2 linked regions of the Homo sapiens genome follow. The protein of the gene in region 2 interacts with the protein of the main gene of each other region in a biochemical or structural test. Each region holds a gene or a part of one and is shown on either strand. Other genes may lie near its edges.

Region 1 (4,429 bases), on a different chromosome or scaffold from region 2:
ATTTCTCTACCTGAAGAGGTGTTGAGTGCTAAGCTATGGCAGCCTCTGAAGACCTGGACAGGGCACAGAATGGAGTAGGGTAGGGTAGGGGGAGGAGAGACGGGAAATGGAAGGATGAGACAGAGAAAGCCAAAGTTGGCAGCTGCCCTGAAATCCTAGGTGGGGGCTTCTAAGCTGGTTAAGTATCAGGAGCATTGACTTGCCAGTGGGGTGGCCAGTACAGTGTTCTCCCTGCTGGAGAGGGTCTCTGGGCCCAGGATTGCGGCAATAGATTTACCAGGGGCAGACTAATCAGTTAAAGGAGGCCTCCTACCCCTCAAGTGTACTGTCTGCAGGATAAAGTGATCAGCTAGGACAACGGATGGATGATGGCAGGGCTCTGCTCTAGTCGGCAATGCATCCTGAGCCTGTAGGCTCAATTACCTCGACTGAGGAAGAGAAAGGGGAAGAGAATGGTCAGTGCTATGTAGCTAGAGGAGCACTGGGTGACAGTCGGAGGACCTGGGATCCCTCTCCGGTCTGGCTCCACAGTTCACTAACAGCAAGAGTTCTCCAACCTTCAGATTCCTCACCGGTACAAGCAACATAATCCCTGCCTCATCTACAAAGTAACACTTCTTCCAAAAGGCACAGACTAGATATCAAAGTCAAATGGCCATTATGCAGCATGTTGGGGTCAAGACCAATGCAATCCGGACTCTGGCCTATGGGAGGACTAAATCAGGCCTGATCTGGCCATGCTTCCAGGACCTCTCCAAGGATTTTCCTCCCTGTGCCTTTCTCCTGCTTGATGGCCATGACCTTTCCCTGTACTGAGACCTGCTCTGCCCTCCATACTGGAAGGGGGAGGTAGCCAGATTCCTGCTAACTCCTGCCCTGGGTGTGGGGACCTCAGGGACCTTAGGGACTTAGGGACAGTAAGCACCTGGCACCCTGCCTGCTGCCACCTTAGCAAGGTGTAGTCACTACTGGATGCAGTGTCAAGAAACAGGTTCTAGTCCCAGTTCTGCCATTTACCAGCTGGCAAACCTTGGGCACTTTTTCCTCGGTCTTCAGTACGCTCATCCACAGAATGGGGATAATCACCCCTCTCAGGGGAAGTAAGGATTCACCATGGGTTAGGGTTCATTCCTGCCGACAGGGGCTGGGCCTCACTGACACTCATCATTATAGCCAAAGATGGGAAGTAGAAAATGAAAAGATAGAACCACGAGCTGCTCCAGTCTTTAAGAGGGAGAAGAACATTCACTGAGCACCTACCCTGTATTATTAGTTCATTTAAACCTCAGAATGATCCTGCAAAGTCAGTGTTATCATAACCATTCTGCAGGTGAGAAACTGAGGCTCAGAGAAGTGAAGCAACATGTCCAAGATCACACAGCCAGCCAGATTCTGGCGCTTGTGTGAGGAGGGAGCACACAGTACCTTCTCTTGCCCACCTCGATATAAACAGATTGGGTGGCTGGGCCACAGCCAGGCCTCACTGCCCCTTGGGAGGTCCTGTTTCAGGCCCAGATGCTGGTAGGACAAAACATCAAGTAGGTGCTACCATCTTATCTCTTTCCCACAGCTTAGAGTTTCCCAGCAGGCGGACACTCAGGCACCTTCCCAGGGTAGCAGCTGGTGTGCCGGCTCCCTCCTTTACCAAGTCAGGTCTTGTCTGAGGACCTAACACTCACAGGGCCACCAAACCGGATATTCCTTCGAGGCTAAGAAGGGAAAAATGAGAGAAAATGGGAGGGCCTGCAGTCTAGAGTCACAGCCCAGGGCCCCATATGTACAAATGCCTCCTTCCAGATGGGCCACCCAGGGACCACCCCAATGCCAGCTCCATGCTCTCCTGGGATCTGTAACAGCTCAAGAAAAGTAGATGCTCTGAGTTTACTAACTAGAGAATAAGGCAAGGAGTCAGAATCTGGCCTGCCAGGAGGGCCCTGACCCCACTCCAATAAAAACTGGCACACAATAAACTATAGGGATGCCAATTAAGCCAGTTCTATGATTTCCAAAGTTGGCTAGTAATGAAAGGCCCAGGGAATGAGAACTAAAGAAGGCAATACTGCTATTCCAGATGTTTCTCCCTGGGCCCAGCTCAGATCCCTTGCTCCCATAACAGGAAGCCAACACCCATGGGATCCCAAAGAGCATAGCTCCTCACCTCATTTGGCCTGCAGACTGGGCGGACTGAGGCTGGATGGGAAGCTCTCAGCCTCAGGAGGCCAGACCTGACAATCACATAGGAAAAGGAGAAGAAGGTCAGGGACCACCTCTCTCAGGTCACCTCCCTCGGGCCAGGAGACCTGGTATAAAACTTGTATCCTTCTTTCCCTTCCCAACCACTTCCTCTATGCTACAGAAGGGACACCAAACAAGTCTGTTCTTCCTGCTCCAAAGTGACAGGAGGGGTATCATCACTCCTCCCACCCTTCCCTGCTGAAAACATCTTTTTCCTCAACTGGTCCTGGGCCTTTTTTTTTTTTTTTTTCTTTGAGACACGGTCTGTCTCACCCAGACTGGAGTACAGTGGCATGACCTCAACTCATTACAACCTCCGCCTCCCAAGCTCAAGCGATTCTCCTGTCTCAGCCTCCTGAGCAGCTGGGATTATGGGCGTGAGCCACTACCGCCTGGCTAATTTTTGTATTTTTAGTAGAGACGGGGTTTCACCATGTTGGCCAGGCTGGTCTCAAACTCCTGACCTCAAATGATCTGCCCACCTCGGCCTCCTAAAGTGCTGGGATTACGGCGGTGAACCACTGCACCCGGCCCTTCCTGGGCTTCAATGCCCCACTCGGTCTCCAGCCAAGCCAGAAGAACTAATGCTGTCGGCACTCTGATCTATGCCTATGCCACCCACAGGATCATTTACTGGCAAGCTGCTTTCTTGTCTGTGGCTACTACTCAAAAACAGACAGGGACCATCTCAGTCTCACTAAAGGTTCCCTGCGGAGTAGGCTCAAAAGACAGACAAGGTGAAGAAATGGAAAGGCCTAGGACTGGGAATCAGGAATTCCAGGTTTCTCACAGGCCTCCAGTTTATCCATCTGTATGCTGATGGCCATCTCTAAGGTCACTTTCAGCTTTTTTTTTTTTTTTTTTTTTTTTTTTTTTAGGCAAGGTCTCCCAGGCTGGAGTGTAGTGGCGTGATTTCAGCTCACGGTAACCTCCACCTCCCTGGGCTCAAGCAGTCTTCCTACCTCAGCCTCCCAAGTGGCTAGGACTATAGGTGCATGACACCACACCCAACTAATTTTTGTATTTTTTGTAGAGATGGGGTTTCACCATGTTGGCCAGGCTGGTCTTGAACTCCTGGGCTCAAGCGATCGCCTGCCTCAGCCTCCCAAAGTGCTGGAATTACAGGCGTGAGGCACAGCACCTAGTCTTTTTTTTTTTTTTTTGAGACAGGGTCATGTTCTGTCTCAAGAAAGAGCTGGGTGGAGCACAGTGGCACCATCTTGGCTTACTGCAACCTCCACCTCCTGGGCTCAAGAGATCCTCCCACCTCTCAGCCTCCCAAGTAGCTGGGATTACAGGTGCCCACCACAATGCCCAGCTAATTTTTTGTATTTTCTTGTAGAGATGGAGTTTCACCATGTTGCCCAGGCTGGTCTCGAATTCCTGAACTCAAGGAATCCACCTGCCTCAGCCTCCCAAAGTGCTGGGATTATAGGCGTGAGCCACCATGCCCTGCCACTTTCAGCTTCCTGACTTGAAATGTCTCCCCGCAAATAAGTATTAATTACTCCACCGCAGGCCTGAGGAGAAAAAGGTGAATGAGCCTCTTCCCAGTCCTGAAGCTAATCAGTCTAATGAACTGGTAATGACAACATATTCTTATCCTTCTGGGCCACTTCTATTAGCCTCATATACTGCTGAGAGAGTCGAAAGTGCTGAGCTAAGTCAGGGAAGGTAAGAGCAGGCAGGTGACTGCTAAGACACTTCTGTTCTACCTGTCTGACACCTGATATCCTGCAGGGACGAAAGGCCATATTTATGGATGGTGAAGGCAGTGGAAACTGTACTGACCTGGGAGTCAGAAACCCTAAGTCCAAGTCCTAGTTCTGCCACTAATATGCTGTGATCTTAAGAAAGTTACTCTTCTCTCTGGGCCTCAGTTTCCTCATCTATGTAAGTAAGGGCTGAGCTGGTCAATCTATTAAGATCCCTTACAGGCCAGGCATGGTGGCTCATGCCTGTAAACCCAGCACTTCGGGAGGCTGAGGCAGGTGGATCGCCTGAGGTCAGGAGTTCAAGACCAGCCTGGCCAACATGGTGAAACTCCATCTCTACTAAAAATATGAAAAATTAGCCAGGTGTGGTGATGGGTGCAATCTCTGCCTCCCAGCTACTCAGGAGGCTGAGACAGGAGAATCACTTGAACCCGGGAGGCAGATGTTGCAGTGAGTTGAGACTGCGCCACTGCACTCCA
Region 2 (4,252 bases):
GAAAGGCACAAGCTCTAGGCCTAGGCTCCAAAAAGAAGCAGGCAGGAGAATGGGAAGAGAGCAGAGGGCTTTTCTGCTTCTCGTTTCTCTTCTCAGGCCCACCCCTCATTCCTCCCTTCTGAACAATCAGAGACTCAGCTTGGCAGTCAAACACTCTTATTTTTCTTTCATGATTTCCAATTTTCCTCTTCACCTTCATATACCCAAAGCTCCAGAGTGAACTGCTTACCATCCCCTTCTGACCCAGAATGCCTTTTCCTCTCTACTGAAGTCTGGCCAAATTCAGGCTTCCTCTTGCCTCTTTCCTTAACCCCTTCTCCTCCCTATACTTACCCTGAAGCAAGCAGTGCTACCTTCTGTCTCCAAACTCCACAGCAATAGGCCTGAACCTGTCTCATGGCTTTGCTTCATTTTGTTGGGTAGCTTGTTTCATCCTTCAAGGACGGAAATCACATCTTATTCAGCCCTGCTTCCCCTAGCATCTATCACAGGGGTAGCACCAAGCAAACGCGTGGTAAATATTTTCCAGTGGTGTACTATTTAGTTTACCAGACAAATTCTAGTACATGACAGAGTCCTCAGGAATTTTAGGCTAAAAGACACATTGATTTTCAGAGGATCTCTAAGGTCCCTTACGTGAGTAGGATTTCACAGTTCTCTAATACATACCATTAAAGTAGCATTAAAGATTCTTCCACCATATGTCTTGAGTTCTCCGAGGATCTGTAGATAATTTAAACGTAGCTGGGCAGCAGAAATAAGTTGCTTAATAGAGAAAAAAAAACACTTGAAGTCAGAGTTATTCATTGGTCTAAAATCCAGGCAGTGTTGAAAATGTTTTTCCTAAGGTTTCACAGACGACAGCTGAGTGGGTCGGCAGAGGCACCTTCATTACCTTCTGTCGGGGTTCCAGCAAATTCTGGTTCCTCTTCATGTGGAAGCTAATGGCTTTCTTGATGTCTTTGCCTTTCATGTTTCGGAGTAAAGTTGGAGATATAAAGTTCTCTATTCCCCAGTCTTTCCTGCCATGAGACATTGGAGACAAGGAGGCCCATTTCTACAGGGTACTTGGCTCTAATGAAGAGCATAATTACATTTGATTCAGTACTTAGTGTTCCCATAATACAGCAATTACGAGCCACTTTCTCCTCCTCTCTTTTTCTTTCTCACACACACATACACACACTCTCCACAAAAATCCCCACAGGCATTCAGGAACTAAACCCCATTGATCATTCTGGGAGCTCATTACTCTTGGTGTGGTGTGACCATCTATCAGTCAGAGCAGGAGTTCTGAATCTTTTTCACTACAAAATACATGGCAAATAATGACAGCATACAAGAGAGTACAAGACACTCTCATGGGGCAACGCAGAGCTCCTGTGAATCCCCTAGGCTAAGCTTCAGCATGGTGCCAGCCTAGCAGCTTCAAAATCCCCCAGAAAATTGCTAAAACTACAGATTCTCAGGCCCTGCTGCGAGAGATTGGACTTAGTACATCAGGGGTAGGGCCAAGGATATGCTGTATTTTTAAAAATATGATTCCCCATCTGATTCTGATGCTCAGGCAGGACAGAGCTGAGATCTGGGGAGGGGCTTAGCAAACCTGAGTGATGCTGTCCAGAACAATTCTAAGCTAAGAATCAGAAGGTGCTGGAATCGTAGGACTTGAAACTGCTCTAGTGGAGACATAATGCAATAGGAACTGGTTCATATCCACGGGAAAAATTAACTTCCAAGGCATTCCCACCCCTAGAAAAGCTTAACACTGATGCTGGCAACTGATTTCCCAAGACATCTTCCCAGGAACAGGCAATTTACAAGGGAATCCTGTGACATTCCATCTGGAGTTGGCTTCTGTCCCAGAGAGAGCAGCCAGGTTCAGACATCTGGGGGAGCCAGGTCAGATTAGAGAGGGTGCAGAGGGAAATGGATGGAAAGACAACAGACAGATGGGTAGGTGGGTGACTATCAGCTTTCTGTGGCATCTGGCCCTCCTGGCCAGGGGCCAGCAAGTTATAAATGCAATGCAGCTGCCATCCCCTGCCACTCACTCTATATACTTTAAAGAGATCTTCTGTGGCTGGGCACAGGCGTAGATCCGTTCCTGGATGTGCAGAGCCGCGAGTCGGAGTGCAGAGCTACATTTCATTTCTACAGCAAAGCGCTCCTGGAGCACATCGCTGCAGCTCTAGAAGAGATTAAATAGAGCAGATGGGAAACAAAAGCAGACATACTGTGTCCCCTCGTTCTCTCGGGTGAAAGGCAGCAGGACCAGGAGCTCCGCTTTGAGAGCTGGCTCTGACAGTTCTTGGCTGTGTGACCTTGGTTAAGTTACCAAGACTCTCCAAGCATTTGGTGTCTGGTAAATGAGGATAGTAAAATCTACCTTATGTGGTTTCTGTGAGACTTAAATTAGATAATGCATATGAAAGCAGGTATAAGGCACACAGTGTTATACAAATATAAAGTATTGATGGCGTTGTTATTGCTATTATTATTATTTTCTGCCACCATTTCTGTAAGACTTGGGGCAGTCCAATCCACCTAGTCTGAGTTATCTCATCTGTAAAATGGTGATATCTGCCAAATGATTCTTTTTCTTTTTTTTTTTCTTTTCTGGAGACAGAATCCCGCTCTGTCACCCAGGCTGGAGTGCAGTGGCATGATCTTGGCTCAATGCAAACACCACCTCCAAGGTTCAAGTGATTCTCCTGCCACAGCCTCTCAAGCAGCTGGAACTGTAGGTGTGTGCCACCACGGCTGGCTAATTTTTTGTATTTTTGGTAGAGACGGGGTTTCACCATGTTGGCCAAGCTGTTCTCAAACTCCTGACCTCAAGTGGTCCACCTGCCTCGGCCTCCTAAAATGCTGACATTACAGGCGTGAGCTACCGCACCCGGCTCCAAATGATTATTTTTCATCAGAATAAAAATGGCATCATAACTCTCATCTAAGGAGGTAGAATAGGGGGAGCACCAGGCCACGGATCAAGAACCAGGTTTTGGCTCTGCCACTAAGTGAGTGACCCAGGCAAATCACACGACCTTTCCAAGACTCAGTGTCATCATTCTAAAACGAGGTTTTAAAGCACTAAGGCCCCTTTTGGCAATAAAAACTGTAATTCTAAAGATCCTAAAATGGTATTAGAAAATGTATCATCTACATTGAGGACTGAGCCTGAATTTCATTCTGATATCGCACACCTGCTAAAACAGCAACTCAGTGATGGAAAAGGGAATTCTGAGCGATGATCAGGCCCATTCTCCTTCAGATAAAGAGAATCCCTACCAGGGAGTTGTTTAATGGCCTCGAGCTCACGTTCAAAATCACCCAGTGCACCATCTTTGAGAACAACCACTGTTATTTTAGGAAGCACAGACCCAGTCACCTGCAGATAGAGGTATTCAAAGGCCACGGGGTCTTCTTTCAGGAGGTCCAGGGGGTCCTTGGGAACAAAACAGACCCTGAAGAGGCAGCGGTAGTCATGTGACTCCTCCCTTTCTACCACCTGCGATGGGTAAGGGAGATACTATTAATCTCCTAACTGCCTTTGTCCTTGCAGTCATTCCACAAAACCACTCTATAAAACACAGACAGTGAAAGACAGTTCCCAGAGATTTCAATTCTAGTGCTTCCCAAGACAGCCATAGACCTTTACTCCTAATTTGACTTTCTTTTTCCTGGGTACAAAATGTAAAAGGTTCAAAAGGGCAGCATTTCCCACTCACCTATCTTCCAGTTTCCCTTTCCAGAGGAAACTCCTGTTTTCAGTTTCTTGTGTGCCCCTTCCAGAGACAGTTTATGTATATTCATGCTTCAGTATAAGTCTATTCTTTTATCTTCCACAAATAATAATATAGTATACATACCATTCTACAACTTACTTTATTTCACTTAAACTATCTTAGGGATTTAATGTGATTTTCTTTCCCAATGCAAATGGAATAGAAGTAATTAAAAAGTCTGCAAGCAGTAAACCTTCTAATCGGTGAGTGCATTGGGTAAGAATTCATCTGCAAAGAGGAATGTTCAGGGTGGCTTTTATGAGGTTATGTATTACTCATTTCCAACTGTTAAAATCCTCCTCATCTTTGTAACAGACTCACAAAGATTTGTTGAACTAACCTGTGTTTAGCTTTAAAAAGTTGGTACAACATATTATTGAATGGTTGGGAGATTGAGTGATATAGACCGTTTGGCTGTGTTTACCCTATTCTGCCATCAGGAACCATATCGGGGGTAAGTCCCA

The links.
Region 1: the proteins of FRMPD1 (region 2) and TBC1D10A interact in a test that uses a peptide from one of them, tested with the Homo sapiens proteins (one large-scale study listed by IntAct).

What each region holds. Positions count from the first base shown.
Region 1 is NC_000022.11:30,319,513-30,323,941, forward strand, and holds part of TBC1D10A (TBC1 domain family member 10A), read right to left. Parts: intron 1-4,429.
Region 2 is NC_000009.12:37,730,243-37,734,494, reverse strand, and holds part of FRMPD1 (FERM and PDZ domain-containing protein 1), read right to left. Parts: intron 3,512-4,252; coding exon 3,392-3,511; intron 2,192-3,391; coding exon 2,055-2,191; intron 1,023-2,054; coding exon 896-1,022; intron 766-895; coding exon 670-765; intron 1-669. UniProt on the Homo sapiens protein: Stabilizes membrane-bound GPSM1, and thereby promotes its interaction with GNAI1.